Homo sapiens: one gene and its partner. The protein of the gene in region 2 interacts with the protein of the main gene of each other region in a pairwise test. Each region holds a gene or a part of one and is shown on either strand. Other genes may lie near its edges.

The links.
Region 1: the proteins of CARHSP1 (region 2) and AKAP8L interact in binary tests that used the Homo sapiens proteins (3 or more experiments, as listed by UniProt).

The regions. Positions count from the first base shown.
Region 1 is NC_000019.10:15,405,751-15,417,929, reverse strand, and holds part of AKAP8L (A-kinase anchor protein 8-like), read left to right. Parts: intron 1-7,335; coding exon 7,336-7,410; intron 7,411-12,179. UniProt on the Homo sapiens protein: Could play a role in constitutive transport element (CTE)-mediated gene expression by association with DHX9. Increases CTE-dependent nuclear unspliced mRNA export.
Region 2 is NC_000016.10:8,855,986-8,868,066, forward strand, and holds part of CARHSP1 (calcium-regulated heat-stable protein 1), read right to left. Parts: exon of another isoform or gene 12,064-12,081; intron 11,444-12,063; exon of another isoform or gene 11,267-11,443; intron 10,458-11,266; exon of another isoform or gene 10,437-10,457; intron 5,750-10,436; exon of another isoform or gene 5,657-5,749; intron 4,589-5,656; exon of another isoform or gene 4,120-4,588; intron 3,351-4,119; 5' UTR 3,344-3,350; coding exon 3,186-3,343; intron 2,488-3,185; coding exon 2,365-2,487; intron 1-2,364. UniProt on the Homo sapiens protein: Binds mRNA and regulates the stability of target mRNA. Binds single-stranded DNA (in vitro).

The DNA of each region.
Region 1 (12,179 bases), on a different chromosome or scaffold from region 2:
GCCCCCCGCAATATGCTTGGGCGACTGTAAATCATCACTGGGTGAATTGCCAAGGCCTCCTGGGTTTGCCTTGGCAGTGACTGATGAGGCTTCTCGGCCAGGAGACTTACACTAGGCCTCCCTGTTTGGTGAGGGTATTATAGGCTTGAGCGTGTGTGGTTGCCAGGTAACCTGCATTCTACTTGGAATTTTGAGAACTGAGAATGCAACGTGAGTCTGTGGGGCTCCTTTGTAGACCACTTTATGTTGGCATAGGCAAGAAGGTAGTGCCAGTCCCCTCTACCCTGGCTGCCAGGTCAGGAGCTTTCCAAGAACCCCAGTTTTTCTAGCAACCATCCCCCAGCCCAGTGGGTTCTCATCCAGGGGTGATTCTGCCCCAGATGACATCTGGCAATGTCTGGAGACATTTTTGGTTGTCACATATGGGAGTGGGAGTGCTGCTGGTATCTAGTGGATGGAGGTTTGGGATGCTGCCCTGCTACGGTATACACAATGACACCTACCGCAAAGAAGTATCTGGCGTCAAACATCAGTAGTGCCCAAGTTGGGCAGCTCTGCCAGAGCCTTTCTGTAGCTTTCCTAGTTCAGGAGGAAAGACTATGGGGTTGTTACTGACATCCCTGGGATTGGAATATAATTCTCACCAAGTCTTACCAAGAACTGGAAGACAGTTTCATGGTTTTTAAAAACAGGACTCTTGAAGAAACCAGAAGATGAATGGTTGGGTGCTGTGGGGTAGCTGAGTAATGGAGCTCTTTTTTTTAATAGATGAGGAAACTGAGATACAAGGTCACTAATGACCAAACCTGAATTCCAGCTCTAGGTCTTGTAGGCTGTAGTTCTGGGTTTGGGTGGGCACTGAGATAGCCAAGCTAAAAAAGTAATGATTAGTTTTTCCTTTATCTTGATAAACTGAAAACCACAGTAATTTACAATGTGAGTCTTCCCCTTATTTAAGAAGTAGGGCACTAAAGTCAAAGGCATTTTAATTCACATTTCAGACAACTAATAGCTTTAAGGGTAAGTCCTAGAGGCCTCGAAGCAAATGTTAGCATTATTAAACATAAAAGGTGACTGATAAATCTTTTTATTAACTCGCCCTGCTTTTGAACCCTGTTACCTTATTTATACGTGGGAAAGGAAGCTGCATCTCTAGCACTGAGAGGGGAAGAGGAGAGCAGTGGTAAACAGCACAGAAATATCCAGAATCAGGCCCTCAAACAAAGGTCTGAAATGCTACTGTACTTGTCATAGAAACATTTATTGTCTCACACAGTTTCTTTATGTTTGGAATGGATAGGTGATTTCACTGGGTGGTTCTAGCTTGGAATATCATGAGGTTACATTTAGGATCTCTATGTGGACTAGAGTCATCTGAAAGCCTGACTGAGGCTGGAGGTCCCACCTCCAAGGTGACTTAAACTCCCATGCCTGGCAGGCTGATGCTGGCCAATAATTCTTGGCCCCATGGATCTCTCCCTAGGGCTGGCTGCTGGAGTATCCTCACAACATGGTGGCTGGTTTTCTCCAGACTGAATGATCCCAGAAAGAGCAAGGCGAAAATCCCAGAAGTCACACTCAGTCATTTTCATAAATCTTATTGGTTGCACTGGCTAGCTCTATTAGTTGGGAGGGATCTACATAACGTTAAGAGGCAGGAATGGAGACCATCTTTGAGGATGGTTGTCACCCTACTCTTGGCTCAGATAATAAAGATTGAAGGCAACCTAACCTAATTCCAGTTATCTTTTAATTTTTGGTACTCTGTGTTACTCCTTCAAATAAGACTCTTTTTTTTTTTTAGATCAGGCACGGTGGCTCACACTTGTAATCACAACACTTTGGGAGGCCGAGGCAGGAAGATTGCTTGAGGCCAGGAGTTTGAGATGAGCCTGGGCAACATAGCAAGACCCTTTCTCTATAAAAATTAAAAATAAAAAAGTTAGCTCTGCGAGGTTGAGGCTGCAGTGAGCCATGATTGTGCCACTGTGCTCCAGCCTGGATGACAGCGAGACTCTGGGATTTTTTTTTTGTTTTTTTTTTTGAGACGGAGTCTTGCTCTGTCACCCAGGCTGGAGTGCAGTGGCGCCATCTCGGCCCACTGCAAGCTCCGCCTCCCAGGTTCATGCCATTCTCCTGCCTCCGCCTCCCAAGTAGCTGGGACTACAGGTGCCCGCCACCACACCCGGCTAATTTTTTGTATTTTTAGTAGAGACGGGGTTTCACCTTGTTAGCCAGGATGGTCTTGATCTCCTGACCTTGTGATCCGCCCTCCCTGGCCTCCCAAGGTGCTGGGATTACGGGCATGAGCCACTGCGCCCGGCTGACTGGGAGGTTTGCTGGAGCCCAGGAGTTCAACATTGCTGAGCTATGATCATGCCATTGCACTCCAGCCTGGGCAACAGAGCAAGATCCTGTCTCAAGAAAATATATACTCTTTTTTAAAAAGGAGAAAGGAAAAGTATAAAACTGAGAAGCATTTGTTTTGTTTTGTTGAGACAGGGTCTCACTATGTTGCCCAGGTTGGAGTGCAGTGGCACAAAATCATAGCTCACTGCAGCCTCGCCCTCCTGTGCTCAAGTAATCCTCCCACCTCACCTCAGCCTCCCAAGTAGCTGTGACTACATGTGCATGCCACCATGCCTGGCTAATTTTTTATTTCTGAGATGAGGTCTCACTATGTTGCCACGCAGGTCTTGAACTCCTGGGCTCAAGTGATCCTCCCAACTCAGCCTCCCAAAGTACTGGTATTACAGACATGAGCCACAGCATTTGGCCTGCTTTTGTATTTTTGAGCAAAAAAAGTTGACGAGAGATTGGTTAAAAGCAAGGAGTGTTGCTGCAGAACTAGAAATCCATGGTCTCAAAGTGAGAGGATTGCTTAAGCCCAGGAATTCAACACCAGCATGGGTAACATAGTGAGACCCTGTCTCTCAAAACAAAAAAAGAAAAAGAAAACAAAAATTAGCTGGGCCTGGTGGTGCGTGGCTATAGTCCCAGCTATACAGGAGACTGAAGTAGGAGGATCACTTGAGCCCCGGAGGCTGAGGCCACAGTGAGCAGTGATTGTGCCACTGCACTCCAGCCTGGATGACAGTGAGACCCCCTGTCTCTAATAAAAATAGAAAGAAAGAAATCCGTGGGCTAGGCGTGGTGGCTCACGCCTGTAATCCCAGCACTTTGGGAGGCCGAGGTGGGCGGATCACGAGGTCAGGAGATCGAGACCATCCTCGCTAACACAGCGAAACCCCATCTCTGTGAAAAATACAAAAAATTAGCCAGGCGTGGTGGCAGGTGCCTGTAGTCCCAGCTACTCAGGAGGCTGAGGCAGGAGAATGGCGTGACCCCAGGAGGCGGAGCTTGCAGTGAGCCAAGATCGTGCCACTGCACTCCAGCCTGGGCGACAGAGCGAGACTCCGTCTCAAAAACAAACAAACAAAAAAAAAAAGAAATCTGTGATCTAACATTTAGCTTTATAGGGCCATATAGGGCATATTTTATTTTTTTCAACCAGCGCTAATCAGGCTGATAAATTGTACCAAGAGAACACTTTACAAACCAGCTAAGAATTTAGGCCGGGCGTGGTGGCTCACGCCTGTAATCCCAGCACTTTGGGAGACCGAGGCGGGCAGATCTTCTGAGGTCGGGAGTTTGATACCAGCCTGACCAACATGGAGAAAACCCGTCTCTACTAAAAATACAAAATGCGTAGTGGCGCATGCCTGTAATCCCAGCTACTCGGGAGGCTGAGGCAGGAGAATCGCTTGAGCCTGGGAAGTGGAGGTTGCGGTGAACCGAGATCGCACCATTGCACTCCAGCCTGGGCAACAAGAGTGAAACTCCGTCTCAAAAAAAAAAAAAAAAAAAAAAGAATTATTCATAATAGGAGCCAAAACTGGCTACAGAAGGGCCTGCTCTGCGATCTTTGCAGATGGTATTGTGGAACAGAATGTTAATGTGGTGCAGGGTATAGAGTTAGAGCAGAGATTGCCATTGATCTTGGAGGGTTTGATGGATCGTCTTTCCTTCCTAGGGAAGCACCAGGGCCCCTCTCGCCTGAACAGACACAGATATTTTGCTCAGCAGCTTGCTGACTGTATCTTGTGAGGGTGTGGTAGGCTGTCATTTGCAGTTGCAGTACTCACAGATCACATTACCTAAAGTCTGAGGCCATTTTACTGGTGGCCCAATTGCTGAAAGAACAAGTTTCCAGAGGCCAGTTGAGCAAACAGTGGAGACCGCAGGGGCTGGGTATTCCTTACATTATAAGGCTTTCCCCTGGGTGAACTCTTCAAAGCTGCTCTCAGTGTTTCTTATGGACAGCTATTAATCAACAATGCCTGGATTTTAGGCATCTCAGGAAGGTCCAGATCCCTGGAAGGAATCCATTTGAATGGATTTCTAGCCTCTTTACTTAGGGAAGGTAGAAGACTGGATCTGTATACCCTCGGTTTTATCCTGCCTCAAGTCCCAGTCCCTACTCTGGAAAGTGAAGATGAAGCTGGGTTCACAGCTCCGTCTTTGGAACCCTTGGAGCTAGATGTATTTTGGAATTCTAGCTTAAGAGAAGTCACGTGGGGTCTGGGGAAGCACCTTGTATTTAAATAGATTAATTCTGCACTAAGTAGGACAAAGAAAGATTATAAATGTCCTTACAGGTGAAAACAGCTCCAGCGTGAGTTTTGGCACCACACTGGTAGAAAACACTTGGTGTTCAGACCCTTTTGGACCTGGGGGAATTGCAGAGTAAGGAATCTTGCCCACCTGCCCTTATTGTCTGTGGTGAGGATGAAATGAGATCATTGCAGATAAATGTTCTTAGCACCCTGCAGGGAAAGCACTTGTTTGCTGTTGGCTGCTGCTGCTGTGGTCTTAAGAGATAAAATAGAGACACTGTCAACAAATAAGAGAACGCTTACCCAGGGGGAAGGCACTTCTGTAGGTTTTTGATGTAAACAAGCTGTTAAAGGCATAGGCTTTAATTTTCAGGTCATGAGTTGGCTCTGATGGGAAAGGCAAATACTGCCTCTTATGGTATCTGTCGTAATTTCAGTGCTGAGAGAAAATTATTCAAAAATATGTATTTCTGGCCGGGCGCAGTGGCTCACGCCTGTAATCCCAGCACTTTGGGAGGCCAAGGCGGGCGGATCACAAGGTTAGGAGATCGAGACCATCCTGGCTAACATGGTGAAACCCCATCTCTACTAAAAATACAAAAAAATCAGCCGGACATGGTGGCACGCGCCTGTAGTCCCAGCTACTCAGAAGGCTGAGGCAGGAGAATCGCTTGAACCCGGGAGGTGGAGGTTGCAGTGAGCCGAGATCGTGCCACTGCACTCCAACCTAGTGCGAGACTCCGTCTCAAAAAAATATATATGTATTTCTAACTGTAGAGTTGTTGTTTTTTCTTTTTTTAATGTAGTTTTAAAGCAAGTGTCAGGATTAGCATCAGTCATAGTCTGTAGGAGCACTGGTTTCTGATAGAGGTAGAAGTTTTCCTTACTTGGCACTAACTCATTTTATTTTATTTCATTTATTTATTTATTTTGAGATGGAGTCTTGCTCTATTACCCAGGCTTGAGTGCAGTGGCACGATCTCCACTCACTGCAATCTCCGCCTCCTGGGTTTAAGCAGTTCTTCTGCCTCACCCTCCCAAGAACCTGGGATTACAGGCAGGTGCCACCACACCCAGCTAATTTTGGGGTTTTGTTTGTTTGTTTTGAGACGGAGTCTTGCTCTGTCGCCTAGGCTGGAATGCAGTGGCATGATTTTGGCTCACTGCAACCTCTGCCTCCTGGGTTCAAGCGATTCTCCTGCCTCAGCCTCCTGCGCAGCTGGGACTACAGGCACACACCACCACGCCCAGCTAATTTTTGTATTTTTAGTAGAGACAGGGTTTCACCATATTGGCCAGGCTGATCTCGAACTCCTAACCTCGTGATCCACCTGCCTCGGCCGCCCAAAGTGCTGGGATTACAGGCGTGAGCCACTGTGCCCTGTAATTTTTGTATTTTTAGTAGCTAATTTTTGTATTTTTAGTAGAGATGGGGTTTCACCATGTTGGCCAGGCTGGTCTTGAACTCCTGGCCTCAACCAGTCCACCCCCCCTTGGCCTCCCAAAGTACTGTGAGTACAGGCATGAGCCACTGCATCCAGCCCTAATTCATTTTATGTTGAGAAATAGTTTGAAAGTTGAGAAGATAGGAAATTTTATGTATATATAATAATACTTATTTCCATATGACCATGCCACCCCAAATAATTACTTTTAAGAAATAATTGTTTTTTGTTTTTGTTTTTGTTTTGAGACAGGGTCTTGCTCTGTCACCCAGGCTGGAATGCAGTGGCGCAATCATAGCTCACTGCAGCCTTGACCTTCTGGGCTCAAGTGACACTCCCACCTCAGCCTCCCAAGTAGCTAGGACTACAGGCACATGCTGCCACAGCTGGCTTTTTTTTTTTTTTGTAGAGACAGGGTTTCACCCTGTTGCCCAGGCTGGTCATCTTGGCCTCCCAAAGTGTTGGGATTACAGGCATGAGCCACTGCCCGGCCCAGAAATAATTGTTATAATTGTTATACACACTTTTTAATGGGAAAACCAAAATAAAAAGCAGTTTCTGTTTCAGATTTAGAACAGGGAGGGGGGTATTATTTGCTTTAACATGGTTTTGAAGCTAACCTCCATCCTTGTTTGAATTCCAAGTGGCTCACCCTTCAGGGATTTGAATAGTTTCCTCATTTAACAGAATGATAACTTGGGTGTTCATTTCTCAAAATAGGCTACTGGCTTAAATGTTTAAAAATTTTTATTTGGGGCCAGGCTCTGTGGCTCACACCTGTAATCCCAGCACTTTGGGAGGTTCAGGAGGGTGGATTGCTTAAGCCTAGGAATTAAAGACCAGCCAGGGCAACATGATGAAACCCCATCTCTACAAAAAAGTATAAAAATTAGCTGCGAATGATGGCACGAACGTATAGTCTCAGCTACTTGGGAGGCTGAGGCAGGAGGATTGTTTGAGCCTGGAAGGTCGAGGTTGCAGTGAGCCGTGATCATGCCACTGCGTTGCAGCCCGGACAGAGTGAGACCTTGTTTTTAAAAAGTAAATAAATAATTTTTTAATCTAGTCCTCCTGGTATAGCAAGTTAAACATAGCCTGCCTTTCCATTGGGTAATATTTTCTGACGGTCTAATTAAACTGTGGAATCTAGAGGTTTTGGTGGCTTTTCGTTGAGAGAAGGGCCTGCTGGCAATCCTATACCAAAGGTTAGGTAGTCTCAGGTCATTTCCCTGTGACTTGCTTGTGGAAATTAACCCCACTGTCTTTATGTTTAGGCTTTGTCCAGGGATCTGAAACCACTTTGCAGTCGACATACTCGGATACCAGCGCTCAGCCCACCTGTGATTATGGTAAGTGTGGACTTCTGGTGGGAACCAAAGTGTTCTGCAGAGCAGTTCCTTGTCTTCTTAGTTGCCTTTGGCTTTGCTGTCACCCTGTCATGCTTTTTTAAACCTAAACTTGTGTGAAATGGTGTGGCCATTTGAATAGCTAGTGCTTCCCTTTCAGGCAATTATGGGAAAAGTAGCTGTGTTCCTGAGCAAGTTAGGCTCTTTGATAAAAGGCCTGGCTTCAAATCCCCATGGGGGAGGGACTGGGAGTCACAGTGGCCAATTAAAGTCCAAAGGAGGCCAGGCGCGGTGGCTCCTGCCTGTAATCCCAGCACTTTGGGAGGCCGAGGCGGGTGGATCACTTGAGGTCAGGAGATCGAGACCATCCTGGCCAACATGGTGAAATGCCATCTATACTAAAATACAAAAAATTAGCCGGGCATGGTGGTGTGTGCCTGTGGTCGCAGCTACTCAGGAGGCTGAGGCAGGGGAATCACTTGAACCCGGGAGGCAGAGGTTACAGTGAGCCGATATCATGCCACTGCACTCCAGCCTGGCAACAGAGCAAGACTCTGTCTCAAAAAAAAAAAAGTCCAAAGGATTGGTCCAGGAGAAAGCAAGCTATTAACTTAGTCCCAGCATAGTGCATGTCCTTGCTGTGGGAGAGAGGCTGAGTGTGTGAATCTGGCAGCTTTTGGAGACTCAGCCAGGCCACCTCAAGCCAGCAGGCTCCACACACACAGAGTTGAGTGAAGATCTCTGATTGAGTTTTCCAGCGTGGACAGAAACACCTAATTAGCTAATTCAGAAGTAGCCACCAGTAGGATTCACAGATGCTGTTTTGTTTGTGTGCTGTGGCAGCCCGGACTGCTGTTAAAGCTGGTTTTTGGTTGTCTGTGACTCTAGGGGTATCTGTTGAGAAGGAGCCCTCTTTGGAATTAACAGGGATAATGTCTTAGTTACTGAGATGGGTAATTTCTTTTACTACCAAGATCTGGGGAAAGACTGATCCTACACAGCTAACATGCCTTCAGGGGTCACTGCATAAAGAGACTTAAGTAAGCTCCCCAAGTAACAGCAGCTAGTCCCAGGAAAAGGGAAGACTTAAAATATTTTGAAATTGAGTGAGAAGGTATCAGGTGTCTCATAAATGAGGAGAAACTTGGTTTGCTTGACTTCCCTGTGCTGCCCTCCCTGCCTCTCCCTTTTCATCAAATGTAGTCCCTAATTGCACATCCTTTTGAATTATTTTCCCTCTGGATTGCATATTCTGAGTACAAGCCATTTCTCGGATATGCCATTTACAAATATTTTCTCCCAGACTGTGGCTTGTCTATTCTCTTGTCAGTGTGTCTTGTCTTGTGTCAGAAAGAACACAAGTTGTTAATTTTGAAGCCCAATTCAATCTTTTCTTTAATAGATGATGGTTTTGCTTTTATATCTAAGAAATCTGTAATATTTTCTTTAGAATTTTCTTTTAGGTGTTTTAGTTGTGGGTTTTACATTTAGTCTGTGATCCATATTGAGTTAATTTTTCTACAAGGTGTGCAGTATAGGTTAAGGTTTCTTATTCTTCTATGGCATATAAATATATAATTGTTCCAGCACCATTTGTTTAAAAAACAAAAACAAAAACAAAACCATTTTTTCTTTCTTTTTTTTTTTTTTTGAGACAGAGTCTCACTCTGTCCCCCAGGCTGGAGTGCAGTGGCGCGATCTCAGCTCACTGCAAGCTCCGCCTCCTGGGTTCATGCCATTCTCCCGCTTCAGCCTCCCGAGCAGTTGCCCGCCACCACGCCTGGCTAATCTTTTTGTATTTTCAGTAGAGACGGGGTTTCACCGTATTTGCCAGGATGTTCTCGAGCTCCTGACCTCGTGATCCTCCCGCCTCGGCCTCCCAAAGTGTTGGGATTACAGGCGTGAGCCACCGCGCCCGGCCTCTTTCTTTCTTTCTTTCTTTCTTTTTTTTTTTTTTTTGAGATGGAGTTTCGCTCTTGTTGCCCAGGCTGGAGTGCAATGGCGCGATCTCAGCTCACCACAACCTCCACCTCCCAGATTCAAGCTATTCTTGTGCCTTGGCCTCCCAAATAGCTGGTATTACAGGCATGTGCCACCACGCCTGGCTAATTTTTGTATTATTAGTAGAGACGGTTTCACCACATTGGCCAGGCTGGTCTTGAATTCCCCATCTCAGGTGATCCACCCGCCTTGGCCTCCCAAAGTGCTAGGATTACAGGTGTGAGCCACTGTGCCAGGCCTATATTTTCTCTATTGAATTGCCTTCGTACCTTTACTGAAAATCAGTTGACCATATACTGTGGGTCTATTTCTGGACTCTTGGACTCTCATTCTGTTCCATTGGTCTGTACATCTAAATTTCGTTCAGCAGCACGGTCTTTTTGTATTTTTAGTAGAGACTGGTTTCACCATGTTGGCCAGGCTGGTCTCAAACTCCCGACCTCACATGATCCACCTGCCTCGGCCTCCCAAAGTGTTGGAATTACAGGCATTAGCCACTGCGCCTCGCCCAGCAATGCAGTCTTGATTACTGGTTAATAGTAATCTTGAAATATGAGTCCTCCAGGTTTGTTCTTTTTTCCAAAATTGTTAGTTTCTTTGCTTTTGCATATAAATTTTAGAATCAGTTTATGAAGTTTTTTAAAAAATTCATGCTGAGATTTTGAGTGAGAGAGCCTTGGATCTATAGATCTATCAAATCTGTAGAATCTATAGATTAGTTTGAGAAAATTGACATCTTAACAATATCAAGTCTTCTGATTCATGAGTGCAGTATGTCACTTCACTGATGTAGTGTTTTGTAGTTTTCAACACAGATCCTACACATACTTTGTTAGATTTACGCCAAGTTTTTCATGCTTTTAGTGCTATAGGAAATGGTACTTTTAAAAACTTTCCATTCATTGCTGATATATAGAAATTTGATTGCTATTTGATTTGTAGGTTTACCTTGTAATATTTGAAATTTGACTTACAGATTGACCTTGTAATAAACCTTGCTAAGCTCACTTATTCTAGTAGCTCTTTTGTAGATTTGTTTGAGATTTTTTTACATACACAATTGTGAAAGAATAGAGATGGATTTATTTTTCCTTCTGGCTTGAATTGCAAGAACAATATAACATTTAAATAACATTTTGAAAAACAGTCAACCAAGATCCTACCATATTAATGTTTAATTTTTATCAGCTTACTGATTTTGTGTAGTTTAATAATTTATAGGTGGATAGAATTGTGGGTACTGCTCTTATTTTATTTTATTTTTTTAAGATATGATCTCACTCTGTCCCCCAGGCTGGAGCACAGTGGCACAATTTCAGCTCACTGCAACCTCCACCTCCTGGGCACAGATAGCCCTCCCACCTCAGCCTCCTGCATAATTGGGACTACAGGCATGCCCTACCATGCCCAGCTATTTTTTGTATTTTTTCTAGAGATGGGGTTTTGCTATGTTGCCCAGGCTGGTCTCAAACTCCTGGGCTCAAGCGATCTGCCTGCCCCACTTCCCAAAAGGATTACAGGTGTGAGCCACTGCGCCTGGCTGGTCCTGCTTTATTTTATGTTAGAAGCATTTCCTTGTGCCACATAAGGCATAGTAAATTCTTTTTATATGCTTACATGATATGTCACCGAGTAGGTAGGTGTAATCTGATTAACTATTACGTTAAAGTTGAGTGTTAAATTGTTTTCTATTTTTGGTCCATAAATATCACATACTGTGACCATGTCCTTTTTTCTTTTAAAAATTATGTCCTTGGGGCCAGGTGCAGTGGCTCATGCCTATAATCTCAGCACTCTGAGAGGCTGAGATGGGAGGCTTGAGCCCCCAGGAGTTTGAGACCAGCCTGGGCAACATAGTAAAACCCTATCTCTACAAAAATAGAAAAAATTAGCTGGGCATGGTGGCACATGCCTGTTGTCCCAGCCACTCCGGAGGCTGAGGCAGAAGAGTCACTTGAACCCAAGAAGTCGAGGATGCAGTGAGCTGTGATCACACCATTACACTCCAGCCTGGAGGACAGAGCAAGACTCTATCTCAAAAATATATATGTACATATATCTTATTTTTACATATATATGTATATATTTAATAATAATAAATATATAAATTTTAAGGATCTCTCTCTCTCTCTCTCTCTCTCTCTCTCTCTCTCTCTCTCCTTAAAATTTCTTTTGTCAACCATGATCTCATCCCTTCTGGGGATGGAAATGAGTTGGGGTGTTCTTTCAGAAAGGGCAGGTCTTGGGGAGTCCCTAAACGCCAGTCTAGATGAAGGCTTCCTCCTGAAGGGACCCAGCTGGGATGTCCATCAAGGAGTCTGGGTTGCTCCAGGCATAGCAAGTGGCATGTAGTGAGTGTTTGCCTGGAGGGACTCCTGAGAGTTGCCCATCGTGGGAGGCCCTGCTTGTCCTTAAAACGTAAAGTGGTGTTCACGGAGTTGATGCTGCTTCCTTTCGTTGTGCCTCCTCACTCTGTTGTGGCAGATCCTCAGCAGGTGAAGCTTGCAGTGACCACATTGTAGCCTCCCAAGCAGAGCCCTGATGGATCTGCTTTTGCCTCCATATCCTATTTTCTTTTTCTTTTCTTTCTTTTTTTTTTTGAGACAGAGTCTCGCTCGGTCGCCTAGCCTGTAGTGCAGTGGTGCAATCTTGGCTCGCTGCAACCTCCACCTCCCAGGTTCAAGTGATTCTCCTGCCTCAGCCTCCCAAGCATCTGAGACCATAGACGCGCACCACCACACCTGGCTAATTTTTGTATTTTTAGTAGAGAT
Region 2 (12,081 bases):
TTTAGCAAAGTCAGGGTTTCACCATGTTAGCCAGGCTGGTCTCAAACTCCTGACCTTAAGTGAGCCACCTGCCTCAGCCTCCGAAAGTGCTGGGATTACAAGCGTGAGCCACCACGCCTGGACTCCCGGTGAGCCTTCAAGAAGGTCCCTTTGGTGCATGAAGCTAGTTCCTGGAGGGGCCTCTCCCTGTGACCACCCCCAGGAAGGTTCCCTTACTTTCTAGGGGACATGAGTCACCCTCTCACATGAGACTGGCATCTTGATGTCCCCTTGATGAAACCCCCCCAGAGGAAAACCCCCTTCAGATGCTAAATGCAAGGGCCAGCCAGCTCCCCTAGTAACTGGTTTGTTTTGATTGGAGAATCGTATGGTGAAGAGTGTTTCCCTCTTTGATCTGGTCACGAGGGAGCTCAGAAATAAATCTGCAGCCTACTTCCAGCAGCAGAACCAGACATCACAATATTTCCATCTTCCTAAATATTTCTTTGCCCCAACCTCTATGTTTTCCTTACTGATTCAAAATCCTTTCTGGGACAAGGCAGTATGGAAATACCCTTACACATCCATGTATGCATGCATATGTGAAATGCGTCACCTTGGTATTCTCCTGCCTGCCGATCTGATAGGTAAGCATGGGGCGGGGGTGGGCAAAGGAGGGGTAACTCCCCCATTGCAGTGGGCTCCTCTTTTCAGAAATGTGGTTTCCGTGTTAGCGGGTATGCTGTGCAGAGTAGGACTCTGTCTGCCCCTGCCTGAAGTAAAAGACTTGGGGGTGCTTAGGCCAAAGAAGCAGGTAGGGACAAGGGTGCAGATCGAGGGTCCTCCCCTGTCTAAAGGCTGCCCAGAGGATCAGAGGTGAAGCATGGGGGGCTGGGTGCCTTCCAGCCCAGCCCTAGGATGTGTGCGCCCCACCCCCGGCTCCCCAAGGGTTTTCAGACACTCAGGAAGGAAGGACGTCAGTAAGCATGCAGGAGGAGAAAGACCCACCCCAAACTTCCTTCCTGGAGCAAAGGGGCAGGACAGCCCCCAGCCTCACCAGTCCACCTCCCCCAAAGGAGGGCAGGAAGCTGGACTGGTCCCCAGGCCAAACAGGGCTCCCCAGCCTCATGGGGTGTCCTTGGCCAGATATAATGGGCACTCGGACTCACCCCAGCAGTCCCTGCTGCTCACACACATGCACCATGCACAGCTGACACCACCCTGTCTCCCACAAGCATAGTCGGGCACCCCCAGATCCATTTCCATCACTTTCTGGCTATGTGATCTTGGGCAGATCTGTTTTTTTTTTTTTTTTTTTTTTTTTTTTTTTTTTTTGAGATGGAGTTTTGCTCTTGTTGCCCAGGCTGCAGTGCAATGGCGCGATCTCGGCTCACCATAACCTCCACCTCCTGGGTTCAAGTGATTCTCCTGCCTTAGCCTCCGAAGTAGCTGGGATTACAGGCACCCGCCATCATTCCCCGCTTTTTTTTTTTTTTTTTCTATTTTTTTGTATTTTTGTGATGACAGGATTTCACCAGGCTGGTCTTGAAGTCCTGACCTCAGGTGATCCGCCTGCCTCCGCCTCCCAAAGTGCTGGGACTACAGGTGTGAGCCACCATGCCCGATCCTTTTTTTTTTTTTTGAAATGGACTTTCACCCTTGTCACTCAGGCTGGAGTGCAATGGCGAGATGTCGGCTCACTGCAACCTCTACCTCCTGGATTCAAGTGATTCTCCTGCCTCAGCCTTCCGAGGAGCCGGGATTACATGCACCTGTCACCACGCCCTGCTCATTATTTTTTTTTTTTTTTTTTTGAGATGGAGTCTTGCTCTTGTTGCCCAGGCTGGAGTGCAGTGGCGCAATCTCGGCTCATTGCAAACTCCGCCTCCCAGGTTCACACCATTCTCCTGCCTCAGCCTCCCGAGTAGCTGGGACTACAGGTGCCCGCCACCATGCCCGGCTAATTTTTTTTGTGTTTTTTTAGTAGAGACGGGATTTCACCATTAGCCAGAATGGTCTGGATCTCCTGACCTCGTGATCCACCCACCTCGGCCTCCCAAAGTGCTGGGATTACAGGCGTGAGCCACCACGCCCAGCACACACAAAACCTTACACACCCATTCACAAAGACACACCCAGGGACAATCACAAGTACCGTGTCGCCCCCAGCCTCACATCCCCCAACACAGCTCCGTAGAGTCTCACAACCCCAACCCAACACACACACAGGAGCACAGCTGGAGCACCAGCCACAGGCAGAGTCACACAGGCCCAGCCATTCGTCCTCACACCCAGCGCCCATCAGAGTCACACACCATCCCCACCTCCACAGGGCCAAGGAAGCGCCCACCCCAGCCAGGCCACCCAGACCTGCCGCTGACTCACTCAGAGATGTGCAGGAAGATGTCGGGGCCGCCATCAGCTGGAGTAATGAAGCCATGGCCCTTGGACCGGCAGAAGCATTTGCAGACTCCTTTGTAGACGGGGCCCTGTGAAGCCCGCACCGTCCTGACAGAGAGGGGGAAATGTCAGGGGCCCCATCAGCGCTCCTGGGCACACAAAGCTCATTCCAGCCCCTGCCCACAGCTGTGCCCCATCAAGCCCTGGCCAGGACCGCCATGTACAGTCACACAGGCTGAGGACTGCACAACCCTCAACCCTGGGAGCCGCTCACAAAGACGCTGGGGGAAAGGACTCTTTGGATGACCCTGGCCAATTTTCTCGGGCCTGTTTTCCCTCCTGGAAAGAGGGAGTTGAACTAAAACATCACTGAACATCCCTCCAGAAACTAATGATTTACTATTAATAACACAAGCATCCTCCACTCGCAAGGCCTGAGACCTGCATCTGCCAGGCATTATGTGGGTCCTTTGCAGCCCTGGTGCTGTGCCCATTTTGCAGCTGCAGAATTCACAGTCTCACAGGGAACCAGACTCTCATGTGTGGTTAAAGCCCAGCGATTCTGACCCCAGCAACTGCCCACCCATTGCCACTCCCAGCTGGTAACAGGTTCTTCTGGGCTGGGCAGTACCCTGAATTTACAAGGCGCCTTCCTAGTTTCTCACCCTCAGCCCACGGCCCAGCCCCAGGTCTGCCTATTTGGCAGTCCGGGACATAGGCCCAAAAATGGCCAGAGACACAGTGAATCTCTGGCCTCAGGCAAGAGATCCATCTGAGAACGCGTCCCCAGCCTGCTCCAGACTCACGCCGAGAAGGTCCTCGTCCGGCGAGTGGGCAGTGGGCTTGGGACCACGTTGCCCCGCAGAGGGGATGGTGAGCGCTCACGGCTCCGAGGGGTGTCCAGCAGCCCGACTGAAGCTTGATGGGTGGGGGGCTGTGGTGGTGGGGGAGGCTCAGATGACATGGCTGACCTGGAAAGAGAAGAGGCTGTCAGGGGCTCGTGCCTTGCAAGGTAGGGACCCTGTGCTTACCCCCATGTCCACGTCTGACAGTCCAGTATCTGAGGCTCATTCCTCTCGGGCACCTCAGCACCATTGTCACCTTGTCTGGGAGCACGCCTGGCAGGGTCAGATGCCTACTCTGGGCTCCTGAAGCAACCGTGGGGCCCCCTCGATCATAGCTCTTCATGAAAATGCCACATCCTCCCCCATGACCAGGATGGCATCGGTCCCCTCTGTGTCCCCAGCACAAGGCATGGATCCCGGCACATTTGGGACACATAGTATTTGTGGGAGGGAAGGAGGAAGGTGAGCAGAAAACCCAAAGCCAGGGGCCGGGCGCAGTGGCTCACACCTGCAATCCCAGCACTCTGGGAGGCCGAGGCAGGCGGATCACTTAATGTCAGGAGTTCGAGACTAGCCTGGCCAACATGGGGAAACCCAGTCTCTAATACGAATACAAAAATTAGCTGGGCATGGTGGCAGGCACCTGTAATCCCATCTACTTGAAGGCTGAGGCATGAGAATTGCTTGAACCTGGGAGGCGGAGGTTCCAGTGAGCTGAGATCGCACCACTGCACTCCAGCCTGGGCTACAGAGCAAGACTCTGTCTCAAAAAAGAAAACCCAAAGCCAGGGAGATTTTAATGCCAACCACCTAGATCCAAACTCAGCCACTCCACGGACCCTCCCTGACGCTGCTGGGAGCCAGACACCACAGGGAAGCAGGGGCAAAAACTGACCCTCACGCAGTGTCCGCCTCCAGGGAACTGTGGAACACGTCGCAGAGAGCTCAAGCGCCACGTTTGGATCCCTGAGCAGCTGTCACAAGCCTGCACCCAGGACTGGGGGGCCTGCTGCGAGAGCCCAAAGGGAAAGGGAGAATTTCCAAGGCTGCATCCAGCTCCATCAGGCCCAGTGAATTTCCACACAGCCCGGGTCACCACGCTGTTATGAAATCAAATTCCTTCTGTGACCCCTAGTATGTACCGGTAAATCCAGCTGGAGGGCGGGAATTCCCTAGCTGCTGCTGTGCTTTTGACAATTTTTCAAGAGCAGGACACTCGCTGTACACAATAATCACTGAACATTGAATATGAAGGTGTCGGCTCTAACGTGGCCTCAGCTCGAGGTTCAGGGGAAAGAGAAACAGTCCAGCAGTCAGAGGCCCTTGGGTAAGTCCTTTCCCATCTCTGGGCTCAGTTTCCGAATCTGCAAAGTGGGGCAGCTGGGTGGGCATCACTTGGCACCTGCGCAGGGCTGGTGATGGGGGTACGAGATGAAGTAGGGAGAAGCCTAACTAACTCAGGACGCCACTCAACACCACACAGCCGGGAGGGACAGCAGCAGCCCTGGATCGGTTTGACTCAGGTCCCATGGGGTTTTCAAATTTAGATTTGAAGCATGGGCCAGGTGCGGTGGCTCACACCTGTAATCCCAGCACTTTGAGAGGCAGAGGCAGGTGGATCACCTGAGGTCAGGAGTTGGAGACCAGCCTGGCCAACATGGTGAAAACCAGTCTCTACTAAAAATACAAAATTAGCTGGGCGTGGTGGTGGGTGCCTGTAATCCCAGCTACTCGGGAGGCCAAAGCTGGAGAATTGCTTGAACCAGGGAGCTGTGGGTTGCAATGAGCCGAGATCACACCACAGCACTCCAGCCTGGGTGACAGAGTGAGACTCCGTCTCAAAAAAAAATAAATAACTTTTATTTTTTTGAGACAGTGTCTCACTGTCACCCAGGCTGGAGGGCAGTGGCATAATCACAGTTCACTGTAGCCTTGACCTCCATGCCTAATTTTTTTTTTTTTTTTTTTTTTTTTTTTTTTTTTTTTTTTTATAGAGACAGGGTATCACTATGTTGCCCAGGCTGATCTCAAACTCCTGGGCTCAACGGATTCTCCCACCTCTTCCTCTCAAAGTGCTAGGATTACAGGCATGAACCACCATGCCCGGCCTGAACTATCTTAAACATCCCAGGGGGTTTCCTCAAAATCCAGGTTTCCAGCTGCTCATGGAAAGAAATGAAGCTCTCACAACCTTCAACCTCAGTTTGCCCCCCCAGTCCCCTCATTTATAGGAGTCTTCAACCTACATCACCCAAAAATCCCACCGCACCCCCCGAACCGCCTTCAAGCATAGCCACCCAAGAACCAGGCCCGACTGCTCAGAGGAGAAGGGATGCCCCATCCCTGAAATGTCAGAACCCCTCCCCAGACATTGCTGCACTCTCCCGTTGGGCCTCAGTTCTGTCGGGCTGGGAAGCTGGTGGCTGGCTTGCCTTCTGGAGGAGGTGGCATCCTACCTCCTGTCCCTTCTCTCAGCTACAGCCGCGGCCAAGGAGGAACTCCTGAGTCCGGGGAGCCCCCACCTCAAAAAGGCCCCAGCTGCTGGCCTGGGGGCCAGGGCCCCCGCATGACCTACCAGCACAGGTCATAGAGTCCTAGAATGTTCAACGCCCAGAGTTCCAGGAAAGAGGCTGGCCCTGGGAGGGGAGGGCCCTGTCCAGGCCTCCCAGGACAGCAGATGGGAGCAGTGGCCTCGCAACTCCACAGTTAGAGACACTGCCCTGCCTTGTTCTATCCAAAGTCTCCCTCCCTCCTTTCTCCTGGAGTCAAGCATAGCTGACTTTTTTTTTTTTTTTTTTTTTTTTTTTTAATTTGAGATGGAGTCCTGCTGTCGCCCAGGCTGGAGTGCAATGGCACAATCTCGGCTCACTGCAACCTCCACCTTCTGGGTTCAAGTGATTCTCCTGCCTCAGCCTCCCAAGTAGCAGGGGTTACAGGTGCCCGCCATCACGCCCGGCTAATGAAGCATAGCTGACTTCTAATCCTACCCCTTGCCTGCTGTGTGGTCTTGTACAAGTTACTTAATCTCTCTGGGCCTCAGTTTCCACATCTGGAAAATGGGAATTATAATAGTCCCGATTTCACACCATCAGGCTGAACTGAAAACAAAATAATACACACTAAGCACTGGGCACACTGTCCGCCCAGGTCCAGTGAGCAGTAATTGTCAGCTACGACTGTTGTTATAATTGTCATCATAAAGGCACTCAACAGACACGTGCCCAATACCGAGCCCTGTTCAAGGCCCCAGAGACAAAGGGCTGAACTTGAAGCCAGAGAATAAACAGTTAAATAAACATAAACCAGATCATTACAGATCCCAAAAGGGCTGTAAAGAAACAGACAGAAGGGGATAGGGGGAGAAGGGTGGGAATACACACGCTAATCAGGGTGCCTGCAGGACCCTGAACAGCAAGAAAGGGGTAGCCATTTGCAAAACGGAGGGAGGCTGTTCCAGGTATAGGGAACAGCCTGTGCAAAGGCCCTGAGGGCCCGGGTGGGACTGAGGCCAGTGGGGAAACCATGTGATGGGTGGGGGACTAGGAATGGGAGGCAGGAAAGGCGGTGGAAAGGGTAGGGCCCGCTCAGGAATCATGCCGCGTCATCATCATCATCACTGTCATTGTCACCATCGTCGTCCTCCTTGCATCTTCCATTTGTCACACCCATTTTCCCCTGGGTGAATGGCACAGACCCAAAATGGGGGCCCCCTTCTTTCTCCACCCAAGCCCCCTCAACACCCCAAGTGCACCCAATCCTTCAGAGATGCCACTGGAAGCTCATGGCCTGTAGGGGTGAGGAGTCTGAGGGCAGCACAGGGCCCCTCTGTGTCCCAAGGGCCCAGCACAGGCACTGGCACAGAGCAGGGTCTCCAGACGGTCCAGGAATGGCCACAAGGATGGCTTTTTTTTTTTTTTTTTTTTTTTTTCAGATAGGATCTCACTTGGTCACCTAGGCTGGAATGCAGTGGCGCGATCATGGCTCACTGAAGCCTCTCAACCTCCTGGGCTCAGGTGATCCGCCCACCCCAGCCTCCTGGGTTGTGGGACTACGGCCACGTGCCACCACAACCAGCTCATTTTTTGTAGAGACAGGGTTTCAATATGTTGCCCAGGCTGGTCTTAAACTCCTGGGCTCAAGCGATCGGCGCACCTTGGCTTCCCAAAGTGCTGGGATTACAGGCGTGAGCCACCACACCCAGCTTCCAAGCCTCATTCTTTGCCAGCATTAGGACCCAAAGCCCCAGCTGGCTGCCACTGCATTGGTGTGCACTCAGCACCATGCCCAGCCCAGCAGGAGGTGGCTACATTCCTGCTCACCTGATAGTGGAAGAAACTGAGGCACGGAGCAGACGTGACTAGGGGCGGGGGCAGTGCCAACTGGGAGACCCAGGAGCTTTATCCAGCCTCTCATGGCCCATCTGGGCTGAAGCCAAGCTGGGGTGGCCAGAGTAGGCCTGGCCAAGGGCCACTCACTCCCCAGTAGGCCCAGCAGAGAGGAGTGAATGGCCTCAGTGCGGGGGAGGGCCGGGCAAAGTCCAGCTGGAAAGAAAACAACTGGGGGGCGGGTAACCAGGCACCCAGAAGCCAGCTCTGAGGCCCTGGCCAGCCTCTGCTGTGTCCCCTCCACAATACACACATACACAAGGATGGGGCCACACAGCAGCCCCGCCCACCAGCACAGTCCCAGCTTCCAGCCAGCCACTGCTCTCCCAGCAATACCAGGCATGGCCTTGGAGTGTCCCCAGCAGAAGACAGGGCCTGCCCTCTGTGACTAGCCTTCAGCTCCCCACAGCTGGGGGAGGGAGGAAGGCTGCAAACAGATCCGCCACTCAGATGAGCTTCTGGCCTGCAACAAACTTCGACCAAATGTCACGACCAAGGTGTCATGACTGCCAGGCTGCATGTACATGTGTGCTCGTTTGTGCACAGGTATGTAGGTGTATGCACATGTGTATGTGTGTGCTGTGTATATACGCATGTGTACACATACATATGTGCCCACACATGGCTGTCTCTGCATCTGAGCGCATACACGTGTATGCATGCGTGAACTTGTTGCCGTCTGTATGCACACGTCCATGGAGCGGGGAGCCTCACCTCACCGCACAGCACGCTGGGCACCTGTGCTGCCACAGGGGACCTTGATGAACTCTGCCACTTCCTATTGAACCAACAGATAAGGGAGTGGGACAGACCATGACTACCACCACCACAGCAGTGTCCTGGGGCCATTCTGCTTACTACTTTACAACACTTCACACAGCCCAGCTCATTCTATCCCCATTTCACTAATGGGAGAACGGAGACACAAAGAGTCAAGTAACTTGCCCAGGGTCGCCCGGCTAACAAAGACCCTGGTGAAATACGGAGTAAGTCAGACAGCAGAAATGCTACGGAGAAAAAGCCAGCAGGGTAAGGGGGAGAGGCTGCACCAGGAGGTGCCCAGCTGGCCATGCACCCCCTTCCCCAGTCAGCCCCCAGGCTCTGATGAGTGCCCGGCCAAGGGAGGGAGCCCAGGGTGGTGGGGGCAGGAAGCCACGCCCACCCTGACTGCCCCAGGGATGGGTGTGTCGGCTGGGAGAAGGGGGCCTCGGCCGAAAATAGCCTGGGAATTTTCCGTAGGCTCTGCAGCTCCTCCTGGAAGGTTCTGGAGTTCAGCTGGGTACCAAGACTCTGGCTTTCCCAGCCCCTGCTCAGCCTGCCCGCATGTCTGGAGACTTACGGCCCAATCATGCAGCCCCCATTACCCACTCCCCAACTTCCTGCCCTCCTGGCCTGAAAACCCACCACCCACATCAATGGGAGCCAAGCAGCCCTGTGCTTACTGCAAGGAGGGCTTTAGCAGTGCTATCAGCCATTTACACTCTAGTAAGAGGGAGCTCATTGAAGGAGACTCCATTCATTTTTGTTTTTGTGAGACAGAATCTCCCTCTGTTGCCCAGGATGGAGTGCAGTGGCACAATCTCAGCTCACTGCAGACCCCCGCCCCCCAGGTTCAAGCGATTCTCCTGCCTTAGCCTCCCGAGTAGCTGGGACTACAGGCATGTACCACCACACCCAGCCAATTGTTGTATTTTTAGTAGAGACGGGGTTTCACCATTTTAGCCAATCTGGTCTCGGACTCCTGACCTCTCATGATTTACCCGCTTCAGCCTCCCAAAGTCCTCGGATTACAGGCATGAGCCACCGTGCCCAGCCAGAGATTCCATTCTTAATAGCTTCAGCCCCTTTATTGAAGACAGGATGATAGAAGGCAGGGGGATAAGAGTTCAAGTCAGACACCTCACTCTTGGCAAAGCGAGAACCTCTCCAAGCCTGCTCTGCAAAATGAGGGTGTCTTGAGCCTTCCATGGGATGCTGGCTGGGGAAGGCCAGGGTTGGGCATGGTGTTGGGGCAGCTTCCAGCCCGGAGCCAGCCCACTGCTGGCAGGTGTGGTGGGTAGTGGCCCGCACTATGGGGATGGGGCAGGCTGTAGTGCTTTCATACACCCTACAGCCACTGTCCACAGACTTCTGCGTCAGGCCCTGTTGGGGGATTACAAACATCAACTACATGCACGTAAACATCGACCCAACAGGGGAGGCACTTTTAGCAGCCCTGTTTTACAGATGAGGAAACTAAGGCACAGAGTTAAGCCAGTGATTCTACTTCCTACTTTAATGCAGTCAGGAATCTCTGGGGATCTTGTTCAAATGCAGATTGCCATTCAGCAGGTGTGGGGTGGGGCCTGAGATTCTTCATTTCTTTTTTATTTTTTTTGAGACAGGGTCTTGCTTTGTTACCCAGGCTGGAGTTTGGTGGCACAATCATGGCTCACTGCAGCCTCAACCTCCTGGGCTCAAGGGATCCTCTCACTTCAGCCTCCCAAGTAGCTGGGACTACAGGCGTGTGCTACCACACCCAGCTAATTTTTTTATTTTTTGTAGAGACAAGGTCTCACTGTGTTGTCCAGGCTGGTCTCGACCTCCCAGGCTCAAGAGATTCTCCCACCCCGGCCTCCCAAAGTGCTGGGATTACAGGCTCCAGATTCCTGGCCAAGATTCTACATTTCTAAGGCGCTCCCAGTGAGGCAGCTGTCCCTGACCCAGGGAACACGGCAGTAGCCGGGCTACACTGGCCCATCTCACAGCCCAAGGCTTAACAGTGCAGGAGGTGGAAGGGAAATGGCGCAGGGATCGGGGTGAGACTCTAGCAGAGTAGCGAAGTTACCTTAGTGCACCTGGGTTCCTCCTTTGTAAACAGACAGAGACACTGAGCTGACCCATCCCAGTCTCCAGCGCAGCTGAGCCCCAGCCTGGGAGAACTGCCGGCACGTGGGCCGAGAGGCGGGGCGGGTCAGCTGAGCCCAGATAGAAGGGTCCCTGGAAGCGATAGAGGCCGAGAACGAGCCAGAGGTTGACGCAGCAGCGTCAGGCTGGCCTAGCCACATTCCCCTCCATTGTTCCGGGGAGAGCGGGGGGTCTGGCGAGGGAGGAGCAGAGAGAGAGGAGGGGGAGGGACACGAAGGGATGGGGGTTGGAGTGTCCAGGGGGAGGGACGGGAGGCAAAGGGGAGGGGGCAGCCAGGCCGGAGTCAGCCCTCCGCTGGCTAAGGACCTGAAGCCAACAGTCACAGAGAAGTGCAAACAGGCGGGCAGGGAAGGTGCAGCCCGGCGCCTACGTCTGCCCAGAGCCCCCTCCCAGGCCCCGCCAAGCTGGGAATAGCTCTTCCGCCCTCAGGAGCCCCTGAGTGCTGGGAAGAGGCCGGAAACCCGAGGAGTGTACCGGGAACCCAAGGGGGCCTCCAACATTGCCATTGCCTGTGCCCCCATTAGCACCCCTGGACGGCCTCGACCGGACGGGCGACCCCACCCAGCAGGGAGACGGTCACCCCACCGCCACCACCCACCTGGGACCCTGCGCCCGCCCCAGTTCTCAGCCTGGACTGCCCCTCCTGCGGGAAGCCCAAGCCCTCCTTCTCAACAAGAACCCTACTCTACACGCCTCCCCCACTCAATCCCTCCATCCTTCCCTCCATTCTCGGGGGGCTTTGGCTCAGACCTGAGATTGAGCCCTGACTGGTCCCCACTCCCTCTGTGACCCCTGCCAGGCGATTTCACCGCCCCACCCGAGTTTCCTCATCTGTCAAAGGGGACAGGAGCGGTGCTGCGTCGCAGGGCTCGGACGCTGTGCAGATGGTGCCGCGAAAATGCCAAGCGCACGGCGGGCTCAGTCCACAATAGTGCGGCTGATGGTGGAAGTGTCAGGCACGGGCCCATCTGAAATCACCTTCCCTCCCATTCCTGCCCCTGCTGATGGAACACAAACCAAATGCGCTGGCTTTGCCACTCGGTGGAACAAAGACCGATCCCCTACCTAGGGGACCCACCGTCAACCACCCTCAACCCCACCCCATGGCCCCACGCCAGGCCTAGCTCAGCTCATTGAAAACATCTACTCCCAGCCGGGCTCTGCGCCTCTTTCTTGCCCTGAAGGGACCAGCATCGAGAACTCACGGTCATCACCGAGGCCACCCAGGGAGTGCAGAGGGCGGTGGGGTCTCCAAGGAGGACCCCGAGCCCAGAGGAGGGCCAAAGGCCCGAAGGGAGGGAGAACAGAGGCAGAGAGAGGCTGGAGAAGGTAGTGGCGGAAGATAACAGGAAGCCCTGCTGAGAAGTTGGGGACTTAGACGACAATGGGACTTCGGTGGACGATTTTCAGCGTGGGGTAGATCTAAGCGGATTGTTTTTCTAAGTTCCCTCTGGCTTCAGAGTGGCAGCAAATGACAGGGGCAAGCAAGACTGGGCACAGAGAGACTGAGAAATATCAAAACAGCAAGTTAAAAAACAGTAGCTTACGTGTCTCCCGGCACGGGG